Linked DNA regions of Homo sapiens. The protein of the gene in region 1 interacts with the protein of each later gene in a biochemical or structural test. Each region holds a gene or a part of one and is shown on either strand. Other genes may lie near its edges.

Region 1 (2,752 bases):
AGAGGACAGAAGGCGGCTGCAGTCCTGAAGGACTGAGAAACGGTCCAATAGCTGAGGTGGGGGCACAGCAGATGCACCTGCCCCGGTTGAGTGTGTCTGTGCCGAGAGTGAGGCACTCTTTCCACCTTAGGAGAGGCGGGCCTCACAGAAAGCTGCAGGAACAGGGTCAGGGCGAGCAGGGTGGTGGCCCCTCTGTCCCACTCAGAGAACTGGACAGGCTAAGGGAGCATCGTGTTACCAATGGGGAAATAGAGGCCCGGAGGAGGCCAGGGGTGAGCATATGGGAGCCTCAGGGGCCCCAGGCCTTCCTTGCACCACAACCCCTCCAGAGTTTAGCCCTTGGCATCCTGGGGAATGGGCCTGGGTGGGGCCTGCTCCCAGAGTGGAGCATGTGGGTCCTTGATGAAGGGCCACCCTGGCCTGGGAGGGGCAGACAGAGAGGCCCAGACAGAGCCCATCTGCCGCAAGGGCATAGAGTCTGCTGGAAGACAGGCAGTGACCACACTGTGACTGCACTTCATGGCCAGGGCCAGCCCAGGGCCCAGAACAGGAGCGACGTCGCTAAGCTAGAGCCTTCGATGGCATCTTGCAGCCCCTCTGAACCCTGACCTACTCCTCAGTACACGGACATAGCGTTCCTATTCCACAGCCACCTGGGCACTGCTTCCAGGGGAACTGCAGGGGTCCTGTCTGTGAGAGACCCCATGGATGCCCCAGGAACCAAGGTGAGAGCAGTGCCCAGCCCAGCCTGTGATTCTCCACGTTTATTAGGAAAAGCTTGCACAATTAATAATCAAAATCACACTGTGAAACTCATTAAAACACAGATCCAAATCACCACAAATTATTGATTTCTATGCGATGTAATGCCCAGAAGGAACCCCTGTCCTGTGTAGGAACCGTCACTTCTCTGCGGCTCAGCAGCTGGCAAGGGGAGGTGGCAGTCCCCTTCTGTGTGTTTGGCTGGCTGCTGGGACTGGGCGAGGGGTTGGAGGCGGGAGCCCCACGCACAGTGGGCTCAGGGGCGGAGAGGCAGGGCTCCTCTCCAGCTAGGAAGAGCTGGCAGTCTAACCCAGGGAAGTGGGCGTTCCCCCCACTCAACCACGTGCCCTGGGGAAATGGTGAGACTGTCCCTCCTGCTGGAAGCTGGGGGCTCAGGAGCAGTCTCCACAGTCTCCTGCCCATGGGTCAGCATTTCCTGAGAGTGAGGGAGCCAGGCCCAGGCCCTCCAAATGGGCTCCTGGGCTTTTATTGCCGGCGGCCCTGTAGTCAGCGTGGGCTGGTCCTGCCCTGCCTGTGCCTGGCAGGGTCCTGGATTTGAGGCTGGGGTCCAGGGGTTGCTCTGTCTCCCCTCAGGAAGCCCCCTGGGCCAAGCAGGGTGGGCCTGCACTCAGCCTGTGCTACTTCCTGGCCATACATGGGCCAGGCCCTGTGCCCTGCCACTGGGTCCCAACCACCATGCCAGTGATGTCAACATCACCATGTGGGGGCCAGGGCGCTTGGGGTAACAACTCAGACCTGAGACGGGGCCCCCACACCGGCCAGGAAGAGGTGGCCTTGCTGAGCCCCCAAGTGCAGGCTGTGCCAGACAGCATGGTCCATGGGGTATTGGGGCCTCTGAGAGTGGGGCTCTTCTCTCTGGGCCTTTTAGGAGGTGGCCTCCTTCAGAGAGGGCCAGGTGGGGCCACTCTTGGCCTCCCCTCTCACTCAGGCCCATCCCCCAGCCCCATCCCCTCCTCAGGACCCCTCATCGGGGCCCCTCCTGGGCACGGTCAGCTGCTCGTAGGTGGGCAGGGTGTTGCTGGGCAGGAAGAGCTCAGGGTCGACGGAGCCGCCACTGCCGCAGGGCTGGGTGATGTGGGCCCCGCCCTCTCTGGGGGGGCCGCCGCTGCCGGGGGTGCTGCCACCGTGCAAGGAGAGCAGCTGGTGAAGCATGTCGGTGATGAGTGCCAGCCTCTGGTCCAGCTGCGTCACCTGCGGGGACAAAGGCAGACGAGAGAGTCAGTGGTGGGAAGCACCCAGGTGTGCAGACAGCCTCAGGGCCCAGGTTTGGGGCCAGAGAAGGGAAGGTGCCAACCGTCTCTGCAAGTGCATGCTGTATGCAGGCGGCACGCACGTGTGCACCCTATGTCTGCAAGGCCCTCGGTCGCGCCTGTGTGTGTGCAAGGAATGTGCATGTGTGCCGATTGGAGTCCATCCCGTGCGTGCTGGGAGTCCCTATATGTGTCCACAGGCATTCAGGCTCAGGGCCAGGAGCTCTCCTCTCCTCCTTCTCTGCTCCCCAGGCTGGCCGGCCTTCTGTGCCACATCCCCGCATGGCAGGGTCTGCACCAGGGACCCGGACCTGAAATATTTGGGTTTGCGGCAGCCTTTGGCTTCTTGAGGCCAGGCTTGGGGACATTTGGGTTAAGGGTCAAGAAAGGCTGGGGGCTATGTCTACTGTGTCTGGAGGAGAACTGGACAGAGGGCAGAGTTCAGCAAGGCTGGCTCATGGGCAGGGCCTGGGGTGGTTGAGGAGGCAGAGGGCTTGGGCTTTGCCTGGGTGTGCAGGGGATGCCCCTGCTGGGCCACTTCCAGGAGGGGCTTGCAGGGCACAGGGCTTGTGCCTCTGTGATGCTTTCTGCAAGGGGGTGGGGGTGGGTTTTTTTGTCATCCCCCAGGAACCATTATGCCATGTCTTTAACCTAGCGGGGACACCACTATTTTCCCAGACACCATCTGCACCCACATTCTGTGGTCAGAGCAGTGCCCT
Region 2 (3,754 bases), on another chromosome or scaffold:
TGGCTTAGAAAAACCACATTCCTTTATTCTTATGACTCATGTTTTAAGCATGCATACTTTGTAAAGCTAATATAGCACTCTTCATTTTATCTTGATAAACGTTTGTATAAACATTTTTTCTCTTTTGATAATTTTGTTATTAAAGATTACAAACTTAGAAGAGCAATTAGAACAGTTTAGAGAAGAACTGGAAAATAAGAATGAAGAAGTTCAACAATTACATATGCAATTAGAAATACAGAAAAAGGAATCTACTACCCGCCTACAAGAACTTGAACAGGAAAACAAATTATTTAAGGTAATTAGTTAAGAAAAACTTTTATCTGTAAATAAGTCATAGTTTCAGTCCTATATTGCTTTATTATTATTATTATTATTATTTCTTTCTTTTTTTTTTTTTTTTTGAGACTTAGTCTCACTCTGTTGCCCAGGCTGGAGTGCAATGGTGTGATCTCGGCTCATTGCAAGCTCCGCCTCCCTGGTTCAAGCAATTCTGCCTCAGCCTCCCGAGTAGCTGGGACTATAGGCACGTACCACCACGCCTGGCTAATTTTTGTATTTTTAGTAGAGATGGGGTTTCACCGTGTTAGCCAGGATGCTCTCGATCTCCTGACCTCGTGATCCGCCTGTCTTGGCCTCCCAAAGTGCTGGGATTACAGGCGTGAGCCACCACACCTGGCCCCTATATTGCTTTATTAAGCATTCGATAAATCCAGCTGTTAAATAATACTCAACAGAGGAACATTAACAGGCAGACACATTTGCATACAGCTTATTTTCAGCCCAACCTGAACATTTGAATTCATCATAAATGAAAATTTTGGGATCATTTATCAAAATATTTTAGAATTATTGATTTACAGTAACCATATGGTGTCTCTGATTTTATTCATTTGTACGTTATAGGCTCTGATTTCTTTTGTAATTATGTTCTGAAAATGATAGGTAATGATATATCCAACTGTGATAATTATTTTTGTTCCTAGGATGACATGGAGAAACTGGGACTTGCCATAAAGGAATCTGATGCCATGTCTACTCAAGACCAACATGTGCTATTTGGGAAATTTGCTCAAATAATACAGGAAAAAGAGGTAGAAATTGACCAATTAAATGAACAAGTTACGAAACTCCAGCAGCAACTTAAAATTACAACAGATAACAAGGTATACTCATTTAAAATTGATTATGAAATTAATATGAACCAGAGTTTTAAAGGGCAAAATGGTTATAATGTTGCTCCCCATTGAATTTAAAAAACAAACCAATTTTATTTTATTTTATTTTATTTTATTTATTTTTTTTGAGACAGAATCTCGCTCTGTCGCCCAGGCTGGAGTCCAATGGTGCAACCTCGGCTCACTGCAACCTCCACCTCCTAGGTTCAAGTGATTCTCCTGCCTCAGCCTCCCGAGTAGCTGGGATTACAGGCACCCACCATCACACCTGGCTAATTTTTTGTATTTTTAATAGAGATGGGGTTTCACCATGTTGACCAGGCTGGTCTCTATCTCCTGATGTCAGGTGATCCACCCACCTCAGCCTCCCAAAGTGCTGGTATTACTGGCATGAGCCACCACGCCTGGCCCAATTCTCTTTTATTAATTTTAATTTATTAAGACACATTGGTGGCCAGGCACAGAGGCTCACACCTGTAATCCTTATACTTTAGGAAGCCTAGGTGGGCGGATTGCTTGGGCCCAGGAGTTCAAGACCAGCCTGGGCAACATGGTGAAACTTTGTCTCTACAAAAAATATAAAAATTAACTGGACATGGTGGCATACCACCTGTAGTCCCAGCTGCAGTGAGCCTCATCATGCCACTGCACTCCAGCTTGGGTGACAGAGTGAGACCCTGTCTCAAAAAGAAAAAAAAAAAAAAGCAAAGACACATTGGTTTAATAATTTATATGTATTTTTCTCCCCTCCTAATATTGTCATAGGATTCTAATGTTTTTCAGAAAGGCTCTGTGACTTAGATTTTATCATGTTATTCTAACCAAATCTATTATAAATTATAATATTTAATATGAGTTAAGTAAGGTAATTACCTTTGGTGCCATCGGTTGTAGACTTTATTTCCGTACTTCATCCTTTTCCATTAAGAAGTATTGATATTGACTATTTTCCTAATAGGGAATCAGCAACTAAAAGCTTATATTACTTTATACTTAACAGAACTTTCTGAGCCTTGTTTGATATGATGGGGGAGATATTGGTCTATAATGAAATTAAGTAGTATGTCTGAGAAGTAGTGTATTATTTTTGTGTGTGATCATCTCTTTGAGGTACTGCCCTAAAATAAAGTAAAATTTTCAAAATGTAAATACATATATATTATGTATGTTACCTTTTTCATTAATTATTAGGTTATTGAAGAAAAAAATGAACTGATAAGGGATCTTGAAACCCAAATAGAATGTTTGATGAGTGATCAAGAATGTGTGAAGAGAAATAGAGAAGAAGAAATAGAGCAGCTCAATGAAGTGATTGAAAAACTTCAACAGGAATTGGCAAATATTGGACAGAAGACATCAATGAATGCTCATTCCCTCTCAGAAGAAGCAGACAGTTTAAAACATCAATTGGATGTGGTTATAGCTGAAAAGCTGGCCTTGGAACAGCAAGTAGAAACCGCTAATGAAGAAATGACCTTCATGAAAAATGTACTTAAAGAAACCAATTTTAAAATGAATCAGCTAACACAGGAATTATTCAGCTTAAAGAGAGAACGTGAAAGTGTGGAAAAGATTCAAAGCATACCAGAGAATAGTGTTAACGTGGCTATAGATCATCTGAGCAAAGACAAACCTGAACTAGAAGTAGTCCTTACAGAGGATGCTCTTAAATCCCTAGAAAATCAGACATACTTCAAATCTTTTGAAGAAAATGGCAAAGGTTCCATAATTAATTTGGAAACAAGGTTGCTACAACTTGAGAGCACTGTTAGTGCAAAGGACTTAGAACTTACCCAGTGTTATAAACAAATAAAAGACATGCAAGAACAAGGCCAGTTTGAAACAGAAATGCTTCAAAAGAAGATTGTAAACCTACAGAAAATAGTTGAAGAAAAAGTGGCTGCTGCTCTTGTCAGTCAAATCCAACTTGAGGCAGTTCAGGAATATGCAAAATTCTGTCAAGATAATCAAACAATTTCATCAGAACCTGAAAGAACAAATATTCAGAATTTAAATCAACTAAGAGAAGATGAGTTGGGGTCAGATATATCAGCATTAACCTTGAGAATATCAGAATTAGAAAGCCAGGTTGTTGAAATGCATACTAGTTTGATTTTAGAAAAAGAACAAGTAGAAATTGCAGAAAAAAATGTTTTAGAAAAAGAAAAGAAGCTGCTAGAACTACAGAAGCTATTGGAGGGCAATGAGAAAAAACAGAGAGAGAAAGAAAAGAAAAGAAGCCCTCAAGATGTTGAAGTTCTCAAGGTTAGTTTTGTATTTTATTAGTTTCATTTAAATACCCCAAGAAACTAAGCTGATTGCTAATTTACTAAATATGGTGTTCTGTTTACATCTAACAATTTATACAAGAAGGTTTTTATAAAAATATACCACTTATAAAAAATAAACTCTTGTTAAAAGAAAAACTAGGACAGGCGCGGTGGCCCACGCCTGTAATCCCAGCACTTTGGGAGGCCGAGGCGGGTGGATCTTGAGGTCAGGAGATCGAGACCATCCTGTCTAACACGGTGAAACCCCGTCTCTACTAAAAATACAAAAAATTATCCGGGCGTGGT
Region 3 (3,754 bases), on another chromosome or scaffold:
AGTGGGATTCCTGGTAGCCAATGGCTCATAGTAGACGTTCAACACGCAAGTGGATTGGATAGATGGAAGGATAGATGGGTAGATGGAAAGTTGGATGGATGGATGGATGGATGGATGGATGGATGGATGGATGGATGGATAGGGATTTTGGAGGAAGAGGAGTGAGCAGTCACTGAAAAGAATAGAAAAATAATGAGGCTTGCTCCCTCTCCCTAGTCAGAAGAGCCAGTAAGCAGCTTAGAGCTTTAATCCCACAAATTGTCAGGCAGCTGGCGCAAGAACAGGGAAAAAGAGAGAGAGAGAGAGAGAGAGACCCTGTCTGTGGTAGGTTATGGTCATCAGTGAAAAAGAACAAAAACCTTTGTTTTAAAACTCTCCTCAAAACAGATGATTGGCTAGAGGGTGCGGCACAAAGGAACTTGTCAGGGTGATGGAGACATTCTGTATCTGGATTGAGCAATGCAAGAACCTGGGTAAAGACACAGTCATGGTAACAGCTGTATACATCTGTTGAAAACTCATCAAACTTATCATATTTAGAAAGGGTACATTTTGCTTCATGTAAAGTATGCCTCAATAAAGTGTACTTGATTTTAAAATCAGGATAAAGGAAAAAAACATTGATCTTGGATAATGGGCAGGGGTTGGGGAGAAGGTCTTAATTATCATCATATCCTTTTAAAAACGTTTTTCAAGTGTGTGATGCTCTGATGACATTCTTAAGACACAGCAAGGCAAAGCAGTATCCCAAATGAGAGAGTGAGCATTCCAATAAATATTTTCTGTAAGACACTGATATGTCTATGACTATTTGCTAAATTTAAAAATCAACTTGGACCATATTTACTCCCTTAAAGTCTAATAGACGACTAATTTCTTCTATGTTCAGAACAAATATGTTGCTACTTTAAGAACAGCATACATAGGTGTGGTCGGCCCTCTGTGTCTAAGGCTTCTGCATCTGTGGATTCAACCAACAATGGACTGAAAATATTCCAAAAATAAAATAAAATTAATGAAACAACAACAAAAATAAAACAAATAAAAAAATGCCAGGTAACAACTACTTACAAAGCATTTACATAGTATTAGGTGTTAGAAGTAATCAAGAGATGATTTAAATCACCATCTATGATTGGCTGATATGCATAGGTTATATGCAAATACTATGCCACTATATATAAAGGACTTGAACATTCGCAAATTTTGGTATCTGCAGGGGATTCTGGAACCAAACCCCATGGATACCAAGAGACAACTATATATAAAATACTGAAAGAGGCATGGAGAGTGATTTTCAGGCCTCTACCTAAAGCCCTGAATATTAGAAATTACTGAATTTCTTCTCAGGAAGGAAATTACGCCATAAACCAGTGTTGCCACACACCCAGAGAACAAGATGACCCGACGCCCCAGCCTGGTCATGCCACATGAGCTGAGCAGTGGGTAGGCCACTGAGCCAGTGATAGAAATCACAAATTACAAAACGTCAGAGTACTTTCTGGAAATAAGCCTTCCTCTCCAGGGAACAACGCATTTGACACTTGACTGGGATACACTACCGGATCCTCCGAGGGTGATGGTTCTCAAGAAGGCAGAAGCAATGGTGACCAATAGACCTCCTTAAAGGCTGAGCCGCTGGGCACCTTCCTACTCCTCTCGACCGTGCTAGGATGACTGCAGCAGAGTCCCCGAGTCCTTTGATGCAAGGGTCTAGGTGAGTTCGAAGGAGAGCCATACTAGGCCAGGCAGAAAGGCCCATGGTGATGGCTGTCCACCCTGGTCAGGGGAATTCTAGGTTCAGGCCATGCGGCAAGGTCACCTTGAGGGACATGCTTTGCTCTAAGCTCAGCTTAAGTGTGTCTGAACCCCCCTCACTTCTTCCAACTGCAGAAGCACATGGAGAAGGGGGAGAAAGGGTTGCCCACCTCCTAAAATGAGGGCAGCGTGGTGAAGAGCCCCATCATGCCCCACCAAGGTCCTGTGTGCAGGGCAGGGCAGTGCCTATCCAGAAGGCCAGACCTCTAACTGCTGCTCTGTAGGACGTCCGGGCCTCACATGCAGGCTCCTATAAGCTGGCTGTCTTGGCAAGAGGGCCCTGGTACAGCACTGTGTTCATCACAGAAAACCACACCGTACATAATTTGTAACAGACAGAAATGCATTTGGCTCATGGTTCTGGAGACTGGGAACCCAGGATGGAGGGGCCACATCTGGCAAGGGCCTTCTTGCCATGACATGGTGGAAGGTATCACAAGGTTGGGGAAGGAGGGGTGGGCGGGGCGGGAAGAGAGAGAGAGAGAACAAGAGAGAGAGAATCCATTCATAAGGGTGGAGCCCTCATGACTAAACACCTCCCATTAGGTCCCACCTCCCAACACTGTTGCTTTGGGGATTAAGTTTCCAGCTGGCTTTTTTCAAACCTTAGCAACCACCAAACAGACAAGCCCTTCGGCCTGTCCTGGAGGGCGTTGAATGGCATGGCCTGGAGCTCAACCAGGAGAACCGTGCTCAGGAGGAAGAGACCAGAAGGATAACTCAAAAAGTTCTGAGAAGTTCCTAAGACCACCTGAAGAGAAGGAGCCTGCTGCCAATGGTGTGGACACCGCAGTGTGCTTGAGGAGACTTCAGAAACGAGAACTGGTAGGAGAAGGGGGTTGCACAGACCCTTTCCTCAGTTAGGCACCCTCTGCTCCCACCCTCATGCCCACCCTGACATCAGGCTAAGGGAGAGGCGCTCATCCATTGACAGGTGCCAGGCTGTCCTGGGCCTGGCAAACCCTGGCCTTGTACACCCACTCTCCACACGTCTGCCCCCACCCTCCCAGGGGCAGGGCCGGGCTTCCCTGCAGAGACACAGGGCAAAGAGGGAGAGAGAAGGCCTCAGGCCAGGGCATGGCCTAGTGCCTCCCAGCGCCAGGTCCTGACAGCCTGAGAGAGCTGGAATCAAGGAAGGTGATCCTGGGCCCCAGACAGACGTCAGTGAGCTTCAGCCTCTGGTGGCTGCACACCAGCCAGGGCAGCAGCGCCCCCTCCTGCCTGTGTTCAGCTGTGTGGGCTGCAAGAGGACTAAGGAGAGTTTCAAGGAGGCAGGCAGTGGGGGAGGAAGTGTCCCAGGTAGAGGCTGAAGCTTTAAGGAGGATGGGAGGGGAGGCTTCACCCGGAAGGAGCTTTTGGAGCAAGGGCCTGAAGGAAATTGGGGAGAGAGCCTGAGTATCTTTGGTAACTGGGAAGAGAGCATTCCAAGCAAAGGGAAAAGAAGAGAGGCTGTCAGACAAGTGTGCACCCACCATGTCTGGGCACATCGAGAAGGACCCTGTGGCTGGAGGGGAGGAAGGAGGGGAGAATGGAAAGTGAGACCAGAGGTGACCTGACCAGGGCCTTCGGAGCCCCGGTGAGGGGCTCAGCGGGTGGGTGTCATGGGTGTGAAGAGGTAGGTCCCTCATCACCAGTCAGCAAAGCGTTCCCTGGGCTCAGCTGAAGTCCTGCTGGAGTGTGTGCCCCCTGGACTGGAGGGGATGGGATTGGTGGGAATAAAGTTGTGAGTTTGGAGTTGTGGTGAGCAGAGCACGAAGTGAGCCCCCAGCACTGCCACTTCCGCGTGAGGGGTGAACTGGCCCTGCACTCTCTCCCCTTGAGTGTGGGCAGGACAACCCTCTCTGCCTACAACGGCTCAGCACTCGTACTACTGTGGGACAGTGCTTCTGTGATTACGTTCCTTTATAGGAAAAATTGATTTTGCAGATGTAGGTAA

Evidence for each region.
Region 2: the proteins of KCNQ1 (region 1) and AKAP9 form a complex in vitro, tested with the Homo sapiens proteins (one study listed by BioGRID).
Region 3: the proteins of KCNQ1 (region 1) and KCNE1 form a complex in vitro, tested with the Homo sapiens proteins (2 studies listed by BioGRID and IntAct).

What each region holds. Positions count from the first base shown.
Region 1 is NC_000011.10:2,846,989-2,849,740, reverse strand, and holds the end of KCNQ1 (potassium voltage-gated channel subfamily KQT member 1), read right to left. Parts: intron 1,975-2,752; coding exon 1,738-1,974; 3' UTR 636-1,737; downstream 1-635. UniProt on the Homo sapiens protein: Pore-forming subunit of the voltage-gated potassium (Kv) channel involved in the regulation of cardiomyocyte excitability and important in normal development and functions of myocardium, inner ear, stomach and colon.
Region 2 is NC_000007.14:92,076,710-92,080,463, forward strand, and holds part of AKAP9 (A-kinase anchor protein 9), read left to right. Parts: intron 1-145; coding exon 146-298; intron 299-986; coding exon 987-1,166; intron 1,167-2,369; coding exon 2,370-3,443; intron 3,444-3,754. UniProt on the Homo sapiens protein: Scaffolding protein that assembles several protein kinases and phosphatases on the centrosome and Golgi apparatus. Required to maintain the integrity of the Golgi apparatus. Required for microtubule nucleation at the cis-side of the Golgi apparatus.
Region 3 is NC_000021.9:34,509,990-34,513,743, reverse strand, and holds the start of KCNE1 (potassium voltage-gated channel subfamily E member 1), read left to right. Parts: upstream 1-1,533; 5' UTR 1,534-1,717; intron 1,718-2,419; exon of another isoform or gene 2,420-2,428; 5' UTR 2,429-2,643; intron 2,644-3,754. UniProt on the Homo sapiens protein: Ancillary protein that functions as a regulatory subunit of the voltage-gated potassium (Kv) channel complex composed of pore-forming and potassium-conducting alpha subunits and of regulatory beta subunits.